Regions from separate parts of the Homo sapiens genome. Here region 2 is linked to region 1. A link means that fine-mapping ties the variant in region 1 to the plasma level of a protein whose gene starts in the linked region. Region 1 holds a variant in brackets. A gene starts in the other region. All regions are shown on their forward strands.

Region 1 (8,552 bases):
CTTGAGATTGTTTGTAAAGTGCTTATCTCAATGTAAGCCTTTGGAACACCAGTTCATGTAGAACAAATATTTAGTATCTTATTTTACTGTGTGCCAGGTTATTTCCATGTTCCCGAATTCAATGTAATCCTTAACAAACTGCTTTTCTCTGTTAGATTCCAGATGAGATGATCCAGTGCGTAGTCTGTGAAGACTGGTTCCATGGAAGGGTAAGGAAAATGTTCCACCTTTTGAAACCATTGTTGTCACAAAAAGATAAAGGTTATATTTTACATTATAATTAGTCTTCTAAAAATAAATTCTAATGATATGATCAGTGTATTATTACAGTATTTATAAAATAATGGGCATTTTGGACAATTTGGCAATCACAAGAAAATTTTTGGTGTTCTATATTCACAGCATCTTGGTGCCATTCCCCCTGAGAGTGGGGATTTTCAGGAGATGGTATGCCAGGCCTGCATGAAACGTTGTTCTTTTTTGTGGGCTTATGCTGCACAATTGGCAGGTAGGTATCTTTGTGAAGTTGGTGTGCCACAAACTTGTGCTTGTGAAATTTGTATGTTCAATTCAGAATTTTTAGCAACTATTTTTAACTGGGCTCTGTGGTTATAAAATAGTATATGTTCTGGCCAGGCATGGTGGCTCACGCCTGTAATCCCAGCACTTTGGGAGGCCAACAAGACAGATGGATCACCTGAGGTCAGGAGTTCGAGACCAGCCTGGCCAACATGGCGAAACCCCATCTCTACTAAAAATATGAAAATTAGCCTGGCGTCACGGCGCTTGCCTGTAATCCCAGCTACTCCAGAGGCTGAGGCAGGAGAATCACTTGAACCCAGGAGGCAGAGGTTGCAGTGAGCCGAGATCACGTCACTGCAGTCCAGCCTGGGCAATAGAACAAGACTCCATCCTCAAAAAAAAAAAAAAAAAAAAAGAATAGTATGTGTTCTTTCTCCACAAGGTGCATAGATTTGTTGGGATACTACCAAAAACAAATTTATACTTAAATGATATGATGCAGAGTATTGATGAGACCAGAGTTAGAGAATGGAGGAGGCAGTTTTTGAATGGGATTTTGAAAGATAAATAGAACTGAAATAAGTTGTTAATTCTAACACATGGTATCAGTTGGGGAGGAGGTGGTGTCTTAGTCTGTCTGGGGTGCTAAAACAAAATACCTTAGGCTGGGTAATTTATAAACAATAGACAGATATTTCTCACAGTTCTGGAGACTGGGAAGTCCAAAATTCAGGTGCCCGCAGAGTCAGTGTTTGGTTGAGGGCCCATTCCTCATAGACAGATCCTTCTACGTGTCCGTACCTGTTAAAAGGGGCAAACAAGCTCGCTTGGGCCTCTTTTATAAGTCAGAGCCCTCGTGAATGGGATTAGTGCCTTTATAAAAGTGGACTACAGGCACACACTACCATGCCCTGCTAATTTTGTATTTTCTGTAGAGACAGTGTTTCACCATGTTGCCCAGGCTGGTCTTGAACTCCTGAGCTCAAGTGATCCACTCATCTTGGCTTCCCAGACTGCTGGGATTACAGGCATGAGCCACCATGCCCAGTCTATCTGGTGCTTTTATTATACACTAAGAAATTAAATCAAAACAACTAATTAATGAATGGTCCTGAGGCATTAACTATCTTATTGGTAATGCTTTATGTATTTCTTTATTTTTAAGGTGGCAGTTACTCATGGTATCTGCTGCTTAGGCTTCATAATTTCTTGCCTTTCTCATCTTTAGAGACCAGTTCACCATACAAACCATGAGCAGCATAGCCATACCTCTGATCTCATCCTACAGTTTAGATTTGCCTTAGAGTTCTTTTGTTTTTCTGCCTTTTTTTTTTTTTTGAGACAGAGTCTCACTGTGTTATCCAGGCTGGAGTACAGTGGTGCTATCTCGGCTCACCTCAACCTTGCCTCCTGGGTTCAAGCGATTCTTGTGACGCGGCTTCCAGAGTAGCTGGGACTACAGGCACATGCCACCACACCTGGCAAATTTTTGTATTTTTAGTAGAGACAAGGCTTTTACCATGTTGGCCAGGCTGGTCTCAAACTCCTGATGTCAAGTGATCCACCCGCCTCGGTCTCCCAAAGTGCTGGGATTACAGGCATGAGCCACCACGCCCGGCCAGTTTGCCTCAGAGTTCTTAAGTGCTGCTCCCTTTCTGTTCACACCCTTTCCAGTGATCTCTCTCACTGTCCACAGATGCTGAACCTATCTATGTGTAGTTCTCATTCATTGGGTTTTTTTGTTTTTTCAAGACGGAATCTTGCTCTGTTGCCCAGGCTGGAGTGCAGTGGCACAATCTCTGCTCACTGTAACCTATGCCTCCTGGGTTCAGGCAATTCTCCTGCCTCAGCCTCCCAAGTAGCTGGGATTACAGGCATGCACCAGCATGCCTAGCTAATTCTTCTATTTTTAGTAGAGAAGGGGTTTCACCATGTTGGCCAGGCTGGTCTCGAACTCCTGACCTCAGGTGATCCACCCACCTTGGCCTCCCAGAGTGCTGTGATTACAGGTGTGAGCTACCATACCCAGCTTAATTGGGTTTTTTAAATTGATCTCCTGCCTCTCCCTTCATTTCCTCTCCCATCAGCAGATGGCTTCATCTCCTATTACATTGAAATGCTGGCATCCAATGTGAGCTCCCCTATCGTTTCTCTTCTCTGTCTCAGAGTATATCTGCCACTACACCCATCATTTTTTTTATTTCTTCCTCCCATAAAGAAAAGCTGTTTTTAAAAAATTACCCTTCTGTCTGTGTTTACAATTCAATCTCTTCCTCCTGCTTCTTGTATTATTCTGTCTCTAACAAGTACAGTACAATATTTTCTCCTTTATGTGTAAAGTGCTTAAGCAGTGATTGATATTTTCAAATAAACTGTTTAATTATTTGAATTCTTTGGGTTAGGCAGACATAACCTAAAGAAGCGTTGGAATTTTCTTTCTCAGTATTTCGGAGACTACGGTGGACTAATCTCTTTTTCCAGATTCTGAAATATTTTAATATCAGAAAAAGTGATTTTAGGTCAGATGTGGTGGCTCATGCCTGTAATCCCAGCACTTTGGGAGGCCGAGGCAGGTGGATCACCTGAGGTCAGGAGTTCCAGACCAGCCTGACCAACATGGAGAAACCCCATCTCTACTAAAAATAAAAAATAGCCAGGCATGCTGGTGCATGCCTGTAATCCCAGCTACTCAGGGGGCTGAGGCAGGAGAATTGCCTGAACCCAGGAGGTGGGGGTTGCAATGAGCCAAGATCACGCCATTGCACTCCAGCCTGGGCAACAAGAGCGAAACTCTATCTCAAAAAAAAAAAAAAAATAGCAAAAGCTATTGTATGCCTGATGTGGTGGCTCACACCTGTAATCCCAGCACTTTGGGAGGCTGAGGCAGGCAGATCACTTGACATCAGGAGTTCAAGACCAGCCTGGCCAACATGGCGAAACCCCGTCTCTACTAAAAATACAAAAAATTAGCCAGTCATGGTGGCACGCACCTGTAGTCCCAGCTACTCGGGTGGCTGAGGCATGAGAATTGCTTGAACCTGGGAGACAGAGGTTGCAGTGAGTCAAGACCATGCCACTGCACTCCAGTGTGGACGACAGAGTGAGACTCTGTCTGTAAAAAAAAAAAATAATAATAATAGAATAAGTGATTTTATTGTCTGTTGGGATTTTATTGTCCGTTAGGTCAGTGGATATGTGTGTATGTGTTTTTCTTTTTCTTTGAACTCACAGTAACCAAAATATCCACTGAGGATGATGGATTGGTGCGGAACATTGATGGAATAGGTGATCAGGAAGTTATCAAACCTGAAAATGGAGAGCATCAAGATAGTACCCTCAAAGAGGATGTTCCAGAACAGGGAAAGGATGATGTCCGGGAGGTTAAAGTAGAGCAGAACAGTGAACCATGTGCCGGCTCTAGTTCTGAATCTGATCTCCAGGTAATGTGTGAAGTACGAGCCATCAAGAAATAAGACTGGGCCAGGCGCGGTGGCTCATGCCCATAATCCCAGCACTTTGGGAGGCTGAGGTGGCGGATCACCTGAGGTCACGGGTTTGAGACCAGCCTTGGCAACATGGGTAAACCTCATCTCTACTAAAATTACAAAAACTAGCCAGGCATGGTGGCACATGCCTGTAATCCCAGCTACTCAGGAGGCTGAGGCAGGAGAATTGCTTGAACCCAGGAGGCGGAGGTTACAGTGATCCGAGATCATGCCACTGCACTCTAGCCTGGGCAACAGAATGAGATTCCGTCTCAAAAAAAAAAAAGAAAACTGAAGTGGAATTAATTCTGTAAACTTATGGCTTTGGATTTCAATTTTATCCTTTGCCTAAAGAAATCTC[T/G]TTACAAAATCTAAACTATGAAAACTATGGTAGTTTAAAAAACATGCTTCAAAACTTAATTTTATTTCAGACAGTGTTTAAGAATGAAAGCCTCAACGCAGAATCAAAATCTGGCTGCAAACTTCAGGAGCTTAAAGCTAAGCAGCTTATAAAGAAAGACACTGCCACCTATTGGCCCCTGAACTGGCGTAGCAAGTTGTGTACCTGCCAAGACTGTATGGTAAAGTATCTGATTGTGCTCAGTGTTAGCATGTTTTGTGTACTGGTGCCCCAAAATAAGAACACCTGGGGAAAACATTCAATTTTTGTACCAGAGGAAGAAAGGAAAATAAAAAGAACACCTGAACAATATATTTATGAAATTAATGTTTAGGAGACCCTCCAAATTTTTACATTAAGCAAATTTATGACATAGTACTTACAGTTGGAATGTTTGTGGAAGAAATGGATAATTATGCAGTATTTTAAATTTACTTATTTTAATTTTAGTTTACTTATCTTTGTTATATCAAAGTTGCTTGGAAACACTGGTTGAAAGTTATAGTAAATTGGCCAGGTGCTTTGGCTCACGCCTGTAATCCCAGCACTCTGGGAGGCCAAGTTAGGTCTCGATCACCTGAGGTCAGGAGTTCGAGACCAGCCTGACCAACATGGTGAAATCCTGTCTGTACTAAAAATACAAAATTAGCTGGGTGTGGTGGCACATGCCTGTAATCCCAGCTCCTTGGGAGGCCAAGGCAGGAGAATCGCTTGAACCCAGAAGGCGGAGGTTGCAATGAGTCGAGATCATGCCATTGCACTCCAGCCTGGGCAACGAGTGAAACTCCATCTCAAAAAAAAAAAAAGTTAACAGTAAATCAATGGTTTTTAAATAAAGATCTCATAGACCATATGACATCTGGGAAATTGGGAGATTTCTGAAAGAAATTTAGGCAAAAAGAATAAATCCTTCTAGCAATTCTGTGTTAAAGACGCTCCAGTTTTTCTAGGTCTTAATATAAAAAAATTACATTTTTAGTGATTCTCAGGAAATTGGCTTTCTGAGAATGATAAACAGTTCTAATGGGGAAACTCCTCTTTCTTTTTTTTTTTTTTTTTTCCCTAAAGAAAATGTATGGAGATCTAGATGTCTTATTCCTGACAGATGAATACGACACAGTTCTGGCTTATGAAAACAAAGGGAAGATTGCCCAGGCCACTGACAGGAGCGATCCCCTAATGGATACCCTTAGCAGCATGAATAGAGTCCAGCAAGTGGAACTCATTTGTGGTAAATACTGTGTGTGTGTGAAAATTCATCATTTCCTTCACTATGTAAAAAAATATAAAGGGGGCAGTAAACACCTATATTTTTAATTTAATACAAAGAATTAAAATTTTGAATTTTAGACCATTGCTTGATTTTCATATTGGTGGGTATTCAGCTGCTTTTACCATTGAATCAGAGTTACATGCTAGAATAATTACATGCTTGAGAAACCACAACATATGCTATTCTGATTAAGGGTAGATGGATGAATGCAAATTTTCCATCCATTGAAACAATTTTTGGACATTATGTGTCATGTTCTTGAGCAAGGCATGTCACCATTTTGACAGTTCTTGAGGTTGCTTCAGTGGTTCACAGGAAACCACTAGAGGAGAAAATACCCCCAAACCCTTGATTGAAGGCTTTTACATCCCCCCACCACCACCCAGCTGCAGCAGGCCAAACTTATTTCAGTGGTTTCTATCCCAGCCATTTCCACTTGGATGCCACCACTTTTATGTGACTTTTATAGCATCAGTCATTTCTGTCTTTTATTATTTATTTATTTATTTTGAGACAGGGTCTTGCTCTGTTGCCCAGGCTGGAGTGCAATGGTGCATTCTCAGCTCACTGCAACCTCTGCTGCCCAGGCTCAAGTGATTCTCCTGCCTCAGTCTCTCAAGTAGCTGTGACCACAGACGCATGCCACTGCGCCCCCCCAATTTTTTTTTTTTTTTTGAGATGGAGTCTCACTCTGTCACCCAGGCTGGAGTGCAGTGGCGCGATCTCGGCTCACTGCAACCTCTGCCTCCCAGGTTCAAGTGATTCTCCTGCCTCAGCCTCCCAAGTAGCTGGGATTACAGGCACCTGCCACCATGCTTGGCTAATTTACTTTGTATTTTTAGTAGAGACAAGGTTTTACCATGTTGGCCAAGCTGGTTTCGAACTTCTGACCTCAGGTGATCTACCTGCCTTGGCCTCCCAAAGTACTGGGATTACAGGCATGAGCCACCATGCCCAGTCCCCACTAATTTTTGTATTTTTAGTAGAGTCAGGGTTTCACCATGTCACCCAGGCTGGTCTCGAACTCCCGAGCTGAGGTGATCCACCTGCCTCAGCCTCCCAAAGTGCTGGGATTACAGGTGCAAGCCACTGCACCTGGCCGTGTCTTTTATTTATAATTATTAATTTCTTTTTGCCTTTATTAGAGTAAAAACTTTTCAAGGATAGAGGATGCACCTAAAAGATACTTGTAGCCCTCAAGGTACCTTGTACATAATATAAACTGTTAAGTGAGTCAGTTTGCTTGGGCTGGGCGCCATGGCTCACGCCTGTAATCCCAGCACTTTGGGAGGCCAAGGCAGGTGGATCACCTGAGGTCAGGAGTTCAAGACCAGCCTGGCTGACGTGGTGAAACCCTGTCTCTACTAAAAATATAAAAAAGTAGCCAGGCATGGTGGCGCGTGCCTGTAGTCCCAGCTACTCGGGAGGCGGAGGTTGCAGTGAGCCGAGATCGTGCCACTGCATTCCAGCCTGGGTGACAGAGTGAGACTCCATCTCAAAAAATAAAATAAATTAAATTAAATTAAATATTCAACAAGTCCAAGGTTATTTCAGCTACCAGAATTCCAGAGAAATAGGAAGCCCTTTTAAAAATTCTTAATCTTTATGGGATTAGGATATCTCTGCTTTTTATGCTTTTTAAAAAATTTTGCTTTTTTTTTTTTTAATGAAAAAGGGTCTCATATCAACATGGTAGACGTACAGATAATTTGGGAACGAGTTTCTATGCAGCTTTCACTTAAGAAAATTTTTATTTAGACTACATTATTAACAGACTCAGGTGTCAATGGCAAAGAATATTTTGTTTTTGAAAGCAAATGGTTTATCTAAACTTAAATACTTTTGTGGTTTTGATTTAGAATACAATGATTTGAAGACTGAACTTAAAGACTATCTCAAGAGATTTGCTGATGAAGGCACGGTATGTTGAGTTAAAGAATTCTAATCATAGCCCTGTAAGTTTTGAATGAAGGGTTTATTTCCTTTGACGATTAAAAATGACTGCGACTGGCGGGGTGCGGTGGCTCACACCTGTAATCCCAGTACTTTGGGAGGCCAATGTGGGTGGATCACAAGGTCAGGAGTTCAAGACCAGCCTAGCCAATATGGTGAAACCCCATCTCTACTAAAAATACGAAAATTAGCCAGGCGTGGTGATGGGCGCCTGTAGTCCCAGCTACTAGGGAGGCTGAGGCAGGAGACTCACTTGAACCCAGGAGGCGGAGGTTGTAGTGAGCCGAGAACACGCCACTGCACCCCAGCCTGGGCGACAGAGCAAGACCCTATTTCAAAAAAAAAAAAATGACTGCGACTTAAGTGGGTACTTGAGAGTTGAATTCAGGGACTGTTTTGAGCAAATTGGCAGGCTAAGGGGAATGAATAAGAGGTAGTGAAACATCAGAGTTACATTGGCAGTCCTTACCAACCCCAGCTAAGCCGGGAAGAATGATGGGAGGGCGCAGTCCCACAGCCTCTGAGAGAGTACTTGTAGCTTAGCAGAAGGTCATTGGAAGGAATCCGCAGTACTGATTCTGCTGGTCCTGACCTTGAAGCATGGATCTTTGGGACGGGGAGGGGAAAATGACTGGACAGGAAAAATTAACACCAGACCCAGTTTCTGGAATTCTAAGTTCCATGGTTTAGAATAGAAACTGGGCATGGTGGCCGGGTGCAGTGGCTCACGCCTTAATCCCAGCACTTTAGGAGGCTGAGGTGGGTGGATCACCTGAGGTCAGGAGTTCAAGACCAGCCTGGCCAACATGGTGAAACCTTGTCTCTACAAAAATACACAAATTAGCTGGGTATGAGGGCGGGTGCCTGTAATCCCAGCTACTCCGAGGCTGAGGCAGGAGAAACGCTTGAACCCCACAGG
Region 2 (8,552 bases), not on the chromosome of region 1:
CAAAACAAAACAAAAAACCATATAGCCTTATTTTTAAAAAATGTCTTCCCTGTCAATCATAAAATTTCATATTTAAAGAAACTGGAAAATAGAAAATCAAATATGCAAAGTACTCTTACTCAGAAATAATCATTAGTAACATTTTCCACACAGTTGAAATGAATATAGGTTTATCGTTTTATTTATCTAAGATTTACTAATAGTTCTTTCTCTTTTTTTCCTTTTTTTTTTTTTTTTTGAGATGGAGTCTCGCTCTGTCGCCCAGGCTGGAGTGCAGTGGCGCAATCTCGGCTCACTGCAAGCTCTACCTCCCGGGTTCACGCCATTCTCCTACCTCAGCCTCCCAAGTAGCTGAGACTACAGGTGCCCACCACCACACCCAGCTAATTTATTTTTTATTTTTACTAGAGACGGGGTTTCACTGTGTTAGCCAGGATGGTCTTGATCTCCTGACCTCATGATCCACCCGCCTCGGCCTCCCAAAGTGCTGGGATTACAGGCGTAAGTCACCACGCCTGGCCAAACTAATAGTTCTTAACGTACACAAAATGAAATGTGGTTGATGACCTATTTTCATATTTAATAAAGCTTGCTTTGGGTTAAGAATGGTGAGTGTTACAAAAACCTTATAATGCAAGAAGCAATTACACAGATAAAAAACAACTGAAGTATTTCATCATATGACCCAGGGACTAAATAAAGATGGTAAAAATCATGACTCCTGAAGTCCATATCTAATCAATATCTCAGAGTTTTACAGCAGGACTTTAAGCAAAGCACAGTGCTGAGAAACAAACTGAGCAGGTGACAGGAGTCAGCAAACTCTTTTTGTCTTTTTTCTTTTTTTTTTTTTTTTGAGACGGAGTCTCGCTCTGCCACCCACGCTGGAGTGCAGTGGTGCGATCTTGGCTCACTGCAACCTCCGCCTCCTGGGTTCAAGTGATTCTCCTACCTCAGCCTCCCGAGTTGCTGGGACTACAGGCAAACGCCACCACGCCCGGCTAATTTTGGTATTTTTAGTAGAGACAGGGTTTCACCATATTGGTCAGGTTGGTCTTGAACTCCTGACCTCATGATCTGCTTGCCTCTGCCTCCCAAAGTCCTGGGATTACAAGTGTGAGTCAACGCACCCGACCAGTGAACTCTTAAAGATCCAGACAGTGTTTTAGGTTTTGCAGGCCATTTGGTCTCTATCTCAGCTCTCAAATTGTAGCTTGAAAGCAGTCACAGACAGTGCATAAATGAATAGGCATGGCTGTGTTCCAATCAAACTTTATGATTTATACAGACACTCAGCCTACTCCTCAAACAGGACATCAAGTAGCATCGTAGTCTATGTTGGGTATCCTTCATCTAACCAGACATGGCCATGAACTTCTGTAACGGTGTCCCCTTTGGTCACGTGAAAACTGTGAAGCATCAAACACTGCCAATTCAAAGGCCAGAAGCCCTTCCGGCTACTTGCTATATGCAAACCTAGAAAACACACAGGAGTAGAAGGCCAAAAGCCCTTCAGGCTACTTGCTATATGCAAACCTAGAAAACACACGCAAGTAGAGGAGGTACAGAACTCTTGACAGCCAGATCCAAAGAGATAACAGAGTAACCATCCCTGGACACTCACCTCTTCCGGAGAGCTGTTCCCAATTCACCAACCAAATCCCGATGAGGCCCCACGTCTTTGGAGTTCCAGTTCCAAGACACAGGACTCGGCCAGTTTGTGAAGCCTTCGTGATGCTTTGTCGTCAAAACTACATACCTGTGGACAGCAAAACCACATGAGCAAAGGAAGTGGGCAGTGAACTTGCATGAACTTGCCCAGCATGCCTGAGGCTTTTTAAATAGCTGAAAGAACTTGACCACAACAAATGTACTTGTACCAGTGACTATATTAGTGATATCCAGGAAGCTGCTGCAGTCACAATTCCCCTTGGGCATTGCTCCAAGAATGGAAGCAGATTTGAGGAAGTCCCAACCCTCAGTCCCCAGCAAAGGAGGAGGCCCAGAGGGAAGGAAGGAGTGGGTAAGGGAAAAGAAGTGCACCTTAGCTCTCTGATTCTTCAACACTTCTGGTAGGAACGATTAACTTTCTTTCATTCTTTGCCCTGAAGGAGAAAGAGCTCTACTGGAAATGGCAGATAATAGAAAACTAAGCCATTTGCTGGCCAGGCATGGTGGCTCACACCTGTAATCCCAGCACTTTGGGAGGCCAAGGTGGGCGGATTACCTGAGGTCAGGGGTTCAAGACCAACCTGGCCAATGAGGCGAAAACCCATCTCAACTAAAAATACAAAAATTAGCCGGGCATGGTGGTGTGTGCCTGTAGTCCCAGGTATTTGAGAGGCTGGGGCATAAGAATCACTTGAGCCTGGGAGACAGAGGTTGCAGTGAGCCGAGATCATGCAACTGTACTCCAGCCTGGGCTACAGAGCAAAACTGTTTCAAAACAACAATAACAACAAAATAGAAAACTTTCTAGAAAACTAAGCTGTTTGGTTTACCAAGCCTACATAAATTGCCTCTCATTTATTATAGAGGTGACAAAAGACCCAATAACTGGGAGAAAAGGCAAGTGTTGAAATAACAACCAAATCACTCAATATTTAATTTGCTTTTATGGCACAAAAATAGGTAATGCACTTTATGGTTCAATCATTGGCCAGAGTAGGGAACTCCAGGATTTGAAGGGCCAGATAGTATTTTAGGCTCTGTGGGAGCACATTCCTCTCTGTAGTGTATTCTTCTTTAAAACATTTTACAACCCTTTAAAAATGTAAAAACCATTCTCACCTCATGGGCCTTAAAAAACTGGCAGAGGACCAATCCCTCTGGCCAGTTTGCAGACCCTGGTGCAGTGGAAACAACCTTGACGTCATGAGACCTGGAGTCTAGGACATTATATTCCTTCCTCTCTTTGGGCCAGTCATCTCATCCATGAAATAAAAGGCATGGAAAGAGGTTATCTCCCAGATTTTAATTTTTCTCACTTGTAAGTTATGGATCCCTAAGGCCCCTAGGAGACAAACACTTCCTCTGCTTAATCAAGTCTTATACTCCCATACATTTAATGGCAAACACTAAATGCCAGTTGTAACTTCTCTTTAGTACAAGTGAATTCAAAGTTCAAGAGAAACGAAAACCCGGAAGATGGCTGAGGAACCAAGGTAAGGATGGAAGACTGCTCTAAGCCAGGGGCTGGGGAAACCTCCCCGCCTCCATTTTTACTCTTCTCCAACCCACTTCTCTCCCAGCAGCCGAATGAATCTTTCTAGAAGCTGATAGTAACCACTCCCTGACTTAACATCTGTCAATACAGGGCTCTCAAGGCTCACTCCTTCAGGACAAGCCCCTGCCTTGACAACTTCATGGGTCGTGGTCTCCCCTTATCCCCACCCCAGCGCTCTCTACTCTGTTCTCTGAACCAGCCACCCCCAAGTTCCAACAGTTCTCAGAGAGAGTCAGACCCTTCCTGGACACTTCCTACGTAAAAGGGATTGAGAGGAGCAAACGAATGACTATCTGTACTGTTGCCCAAATACACTGCACACCAGAACTCCCCTCTCTTTCCCTCTTAGAGACATTAGGGCTCAAAGGGTTGTATCCTTATATAACCCCTTTCTACAACCATAGAAGAGGCTGCAGGGAGGCTGAAGTGACATGTCCAGGTTCACAGTTGAATTAGAACCAGGCTCCACACCACTGATTTGAAACCCTGGAGTCCTGATAGTGCTGTCAATCTGAAAGGGACATCAGGTATGGCCTAACTCAGCCCTCTCGGTGCACAGGTGCAGATACCCAGGGCTTCCCAGCCTGCCATCTCCCTGAACCTTCATTTATCAGTCCCCAGTCAAACGCACCTCCTCCTCCTCATCAGGTGTGCCAGGCTCACTCCTGTGGCCGCAGGAGGCCACACGCGGGCCCCGGGGTCATGGGGGCGACCGGCAGCTGCGCGCCCCAGCTGGCCGCCCAGCCCCACCTCCTGTTTGCCGCCCGAGCCGGGAAGGGGCGCCGCTCCCCGGGACCACACTCACTTGGCGCCCGCGGCCTGGAAGAGGTCGGCCCACTCCTCCGGGTGGAAGAAGCGCGCAGTGAACTGCGGTCCGAAGTCGGCGTAGCTGAAGCCGGGCGGGTAGTTGTCGCGCATGAAGCGCTGGTACTGCGGCCGCCCCTCGCCCTGCCAGTGCCACCAGAACCACTCGCTGCCCCAGGCGGGCACCGAGAACACGCCCCAGTGGATGAACACCCCGAACTTGGCTTCGTCGAACCAGGCCGGCAGCGGCCGAGAATCCAGGCTCGGCCAGTCTGGGGTGTAGCGGCGCGGAGGCTGGGCCCGACGCACCGACTCGGCCGCTCCGAGGAAGAGCAGCAGCAGCAACAGCGCGGGACCCGCCGGCCGCGACCTCATCCCCGGAGCCCGCATCGCTACCCCTCAGCGACGCGGCCCACTCTTAACGCGCAGGTGCCCGCGGGCGGCTCCGCCCACTCTGACTAACGATTGGCCCGGAAGGAAAAAGGGGTGGGACAACCTGGACAGGTTGGCCCGAGTCGCTTCCTCCTCGGGTCGGAGGAGCGCCCTCTGGTGCTCAAGAAGGGAAAGACGCAGGGAGGCGTTGACAGCGCTTCGCTGAAGGACGAATAAAAACCTTGAAAAGGGACTTAACTGCGAGGTTAAATCGTGGAGGTGAGCAAGGCCCAGTGTGTGCGGAGAACTCACATTTAAGAAGGAGTCCATTGAGCCGGACGCAGTGGCTCACGCCTGTAATCCTAACACTTTCGGAAGTCGAGGCGGGAGGATCGCTCTGAGCCCACAAGTTGGAGACTAGCCTGTCTCTATAAAAAATAAACAAAATGAGCCTGGCGTAGTGGTGCACGTCTGGAGTCCCAGCTACTCGAGAGGCTGAGGTGGGAGGTTCGGGATCGCTTGAGCCCGGGAAGTCTGGGCTGCAGTGAACCGAACCGTGATCACGCCTCTGGGAGTAGTCCATTTTGCCGCAGCAATCCTGCAGGGGTAGGCTGAAGTGAGATCACGAGTTTTATTTAGTGATCACTTGGGAGCCATAGGGGGCTTTTGAGTTGTCCTGTAGCACAAGGCTGGAGGAGGAGATAACAGACCGGAAGGGTATCTAACAGCCCTGACAGAAATAAGGAGGTAGAGGGATGATGGGAAGAAACGTTATGAAAGGAGAGGAAAGAGAAAACTGGGTACTGAAAGAGGGAGAGCGGGCAGGACCGTTTCATCTGTCTGGTATTTACTGAGCTTTCTTTGGGAATTCCGAGGCATTTCAAATAGCTTAGTTTGTACCGAGATACCGCCACTGCACTCCAGCCCCTGGGCGACAGAGCCAGACCAAGGAAGAAAGAAAGGAAGGAAGGAAGGAAGGAAGGAGGAAGGAAGGAAGGAAGGAGGAAGTGGAGAGCCAAGAGGACCCAGGATTGCCTGGCAGGGAAGTTCCCCAGTTCCTCTGCAATTTGCACATGCTGCACATACTCAAACGGGAGGTGAGGCCATTAGCGAGGGAAATACGGAAGTCAGAAGTCTCTGAACAGACAAGGTGGCTCACGCCTGTAATCCCAGCACTTTGGGAGGCCGAGGTGGGCAGATCACCTGAGGTCGGGAGTTTGAGACCAGCCTGGCCAACATGGTGAAACCCCATCTCTACTAAAAATACAAAAATTAGCCGGGCATGGGGTGCGCCTGTAATCCCAGCTACTCAGGAGGCTGAGGCAGGAGAATTGCTTGAACTCGGGAGGTGGAGGTTACAGTGAGCCGAGATCGCACCACTGCACTCCAGCCTGGGCGACAGAGTGAGACTCGGTCTCAAAAAAAAAAAAAAAAAAAAAGAAAAAGAAAAGGAAGAAGAAGTCTCATGACTCCACGTAGCACACTCAGTTCCCACATGCCAGTGAGAGAATGGCAGCACATCAGAGTTGGGACTTTGAAGATCCTAGGCACCATCCTCTTCCCTACCCTTCCCATTGTACCGAGGAGGGAACTGAAGCCCAGAGAGGGCTGGGGGGCTGCCCAAGATCATGCAGCTAGTTTGAGTCAGAGGTGGGACTAGAATACGTGTCTCCAGGTGCAAAATCTATGCCTTTGTTCATGCTGCTTCTTTCTTGCACCTCATGAGAAGTCAGAGCCTATGTTGACAGAACCCAGCACTTCCTCACTCTGGCAGTGACAAGGAGAGAAAATGACTATTGCTGAATCACAGCTGTTTTCTTTTCTTTTCTTTTCTTTTTTCTTTTCTTTTCTTTTGAGATGCAGTCTTGCTCTGTCGCCCAGGCTGGAATGCAGTGCTGCAATCTCAGCTCACTGCAACCTCCACCTCCTGGGTTCAAGCCATTCTCCTGCCTCAGCCTCCCGAGTAGCTGGGTTTACAGGTACGCCACCACGCCTGGCTAATTTTTGTATTTTTAATACAGATGGGGTTTCGCCGTGTTGGCCAGGCTGGTCTCGAACTCCTGACCTCAAGTGATCCGCCAGCCTCAGCCTTCCAAAGTGCTGGGATTACAGGCATGAGCCACTGCACCCGGCCTACAGCTATTTTCTTTATCTTCTGTTTCTTTTTCTGCCAGATTATGTTGAAATATTGCCCAAAACAGTAAGCATGAACACCTTAGGAAAAAAACCGAACCCATCCACACACATTTTCTAGTAATCGGTTTGCATAGTGGTCTTTAATGTTACAGAGCTTGTCTTGGGGAAGATAAAATGGGACATTGTGATCTTCAATTTATTTCTCCTTATCCACATAACCAAAATGTGAACCTGCAGGGACAGGTGAGAGGCACTGATGTAGAGTGGACAGAACTGGAAGTTAGGAAACCTAGGTTTGTTGCACTGGACACCATCTCGTTTGTCTCCCTGAGCAAGTCTTGTCCACTGTCTGGGCCCATTTCCTCAACCAAACAACAAGGGCAGTTCTCAGTGATATCTAGGTCCCTTTTGCACCCTTGTTCTCCTCCCTCATAAGCTCTGCTTCTCCACTTAAAGCAGACATAGGGGCTGGGAGTGGTGGCTCACACCTGTAATCCTAGCACTTTGGGAGGCTAAGGTGGGTGGATCACTTGAAGTCAGGAGTTCAAGACCAGCCTGGCCAATATGGTGAAATTCCATCTCTACTAACAATACAAAAATTAGCTGGGCATGGTGGCGGGTACCTGTAATCCCAGCTACATGGGAGGCTAAGGCAGGAGAACTGCTTGAACCCAGGAGGCAGAGGTTGCAGTGAGCCAAGATTGCATGCCACTGCACTCCAACCTGGGTGACAGAGTGAGATTCTATGTCAAAAAAAAAAAAAAAAAAAAAAAAAGCAGAAATACAGTGTGGTTCTAAAAGAAGAGAAGTAGAAAGTGTGGAGTTGCGTTTGATCAAATGATTTTTAGAATCTAGTTTTATTCATTCAAGAAGTATTTACTCAGTGCTTGTTTGTGCCAGGCACTTGGGCATTTTCTTTGCCAAAATGAGAAAGGATTCCACCGATGAATAAAGAAAGGCATGCTTCAACTTTAAGGAATGACAGTATATAAACATGCAAATTCACTTTTAAACATTTATGCTACTTGTTTGCCTTACAAAAAGATTGGTGTCTGGATTAAAACAAGATTTGATTTTCCAAAACATACGTCAGAGCTTTTCAGAAACAGTTCAGTTCCACACATATTGACCAGATCCCTTCAGATGCTCTGCTGGGTCCTGACTGAGCACTGGGGATGCAGAGGTCAACCTGGAGCTCATCTTGTTGAGGGAGGATAAACTAGTGACTGCCACTCAACACAGCCCAGTGGGTGGACTTTGTTCCTGGGTCTGTACTGAGTTGAATAGTGTCCGCCTAAACTTCTTGTCCACCTGGAATCTGTGAATGTGACCTTATTTGGAAACAGGGTCTCTACAGATATAATTGGTTAAATTAAGATGAAGTCATACTATTAGGATTAGGGTGGGCCCAAATCCAGTGACTGATATTCTTTAAAAAAGACACCAGGCCGGGTATGGTGGCTCACGTCTGTAATCCCAGCAATTTAGGAGGCCAAGGTGGGCGGATCACTTGAGGTCAGGAGTTCAAGACCAGCCTGGGCAAGATGGTGAAACCCCATCTCTACTAAAAATACAAAAATTAGCTGAGTGTGGTGGCGGGTGCCTGTAGTCCCAGCTATTTGGGAGGCTGAGGCAGGAGAATCACTTGAACCTGAGAGGTGGAGGTTGCAGTGAGCCAAGATCATGTCACTGCACTCCTGCCTGGACAACAGAATGAGATTCCGTCTCAAAAAAAAAAAAAAAAAAAAAAAAGACACCAAGAGACACAGAGGAAATGCCATATGAAGACAGAGTCAGAGGTAGGAGTGATGTTTCCACAAGCCAAGGAATGACAGGGACTGCCAGAAGTTGAAAGAGTCAAGGAATAATTCTCCCCTTAAACTTTTGGAGGGAGCAGGGCCCTACCACATCTTGATTTTGACTTCTGGCCTCCAGAATTATGAGACAGTAAATTTCTGTTGATAAGCCACTGGATTTGTGAAATTTATTACAGGAGATTAATACGGGGCCATTT

Alleles and levels. Positions count from the first base shown, and alleles are read on the strand shown. Strength reflects both the effect of a copy and how common the allele is.
With allele T in place of G in region 1, the plasma level of the protein whose gene starts at base 4,424 in region 2 is lower (weak association).

The links. PIP is the posterior inclusion probability: the model's chance that the variant is causal. Protein levels are from antibody-based Olink assays in UK Biobank. Linkage for the fine-mapping came from a reference panel and not from the study's own genotypes, which makes the PIPs less certain.
Region 2: it holds the start of FUCA1, and the variant in region 1 is fine-mapped to the plasma level of the FUCA1 protein (UK Biobank, PIP 0.91).

What each region holds. Positions count from the first base shown.
Region 1 is chr14:93,214,774-93,223,325 of GRCh38, forward strand. UBR7 (ubiquitin protein ligase E3 component n-recognin 7) reads left to right here. Exons shown (of 11, transcript NM_175748.4): 5 at 156-209; 6 at 403-508; 7 at 3,754-3,962; 8 at 4,439-4,588; 9 at 5,476-5,638; 10 at 7,540-7,601. Among named protein-coding and RNA genes, the nearest start is that of UBR7, 12 kb to the left of the region's middle. The variant T/G (reference allele first, on the strand shown) is at 4,369.
Region 2 is chr1:23,863,867-23,872,418 of GRCh38, forward strand. FUCA1 (alpha-L-fucosidase 1) reads right to left here and starts at 4,424. Exons shown (of 8, transcript NM_000147.5): 1 at 4,032-4,424; 2 at 1,625-1,759. The coding sequence starts at 4,420. CNR2 (cannabinoid receptor 2) reads right to left here. Exons shown (of 2, transcript NM_001841.3): 2 at 6,649-8,552. RefSeq lists an enhancer at 1,386-2,585 and a silencer at 3,836-4,055.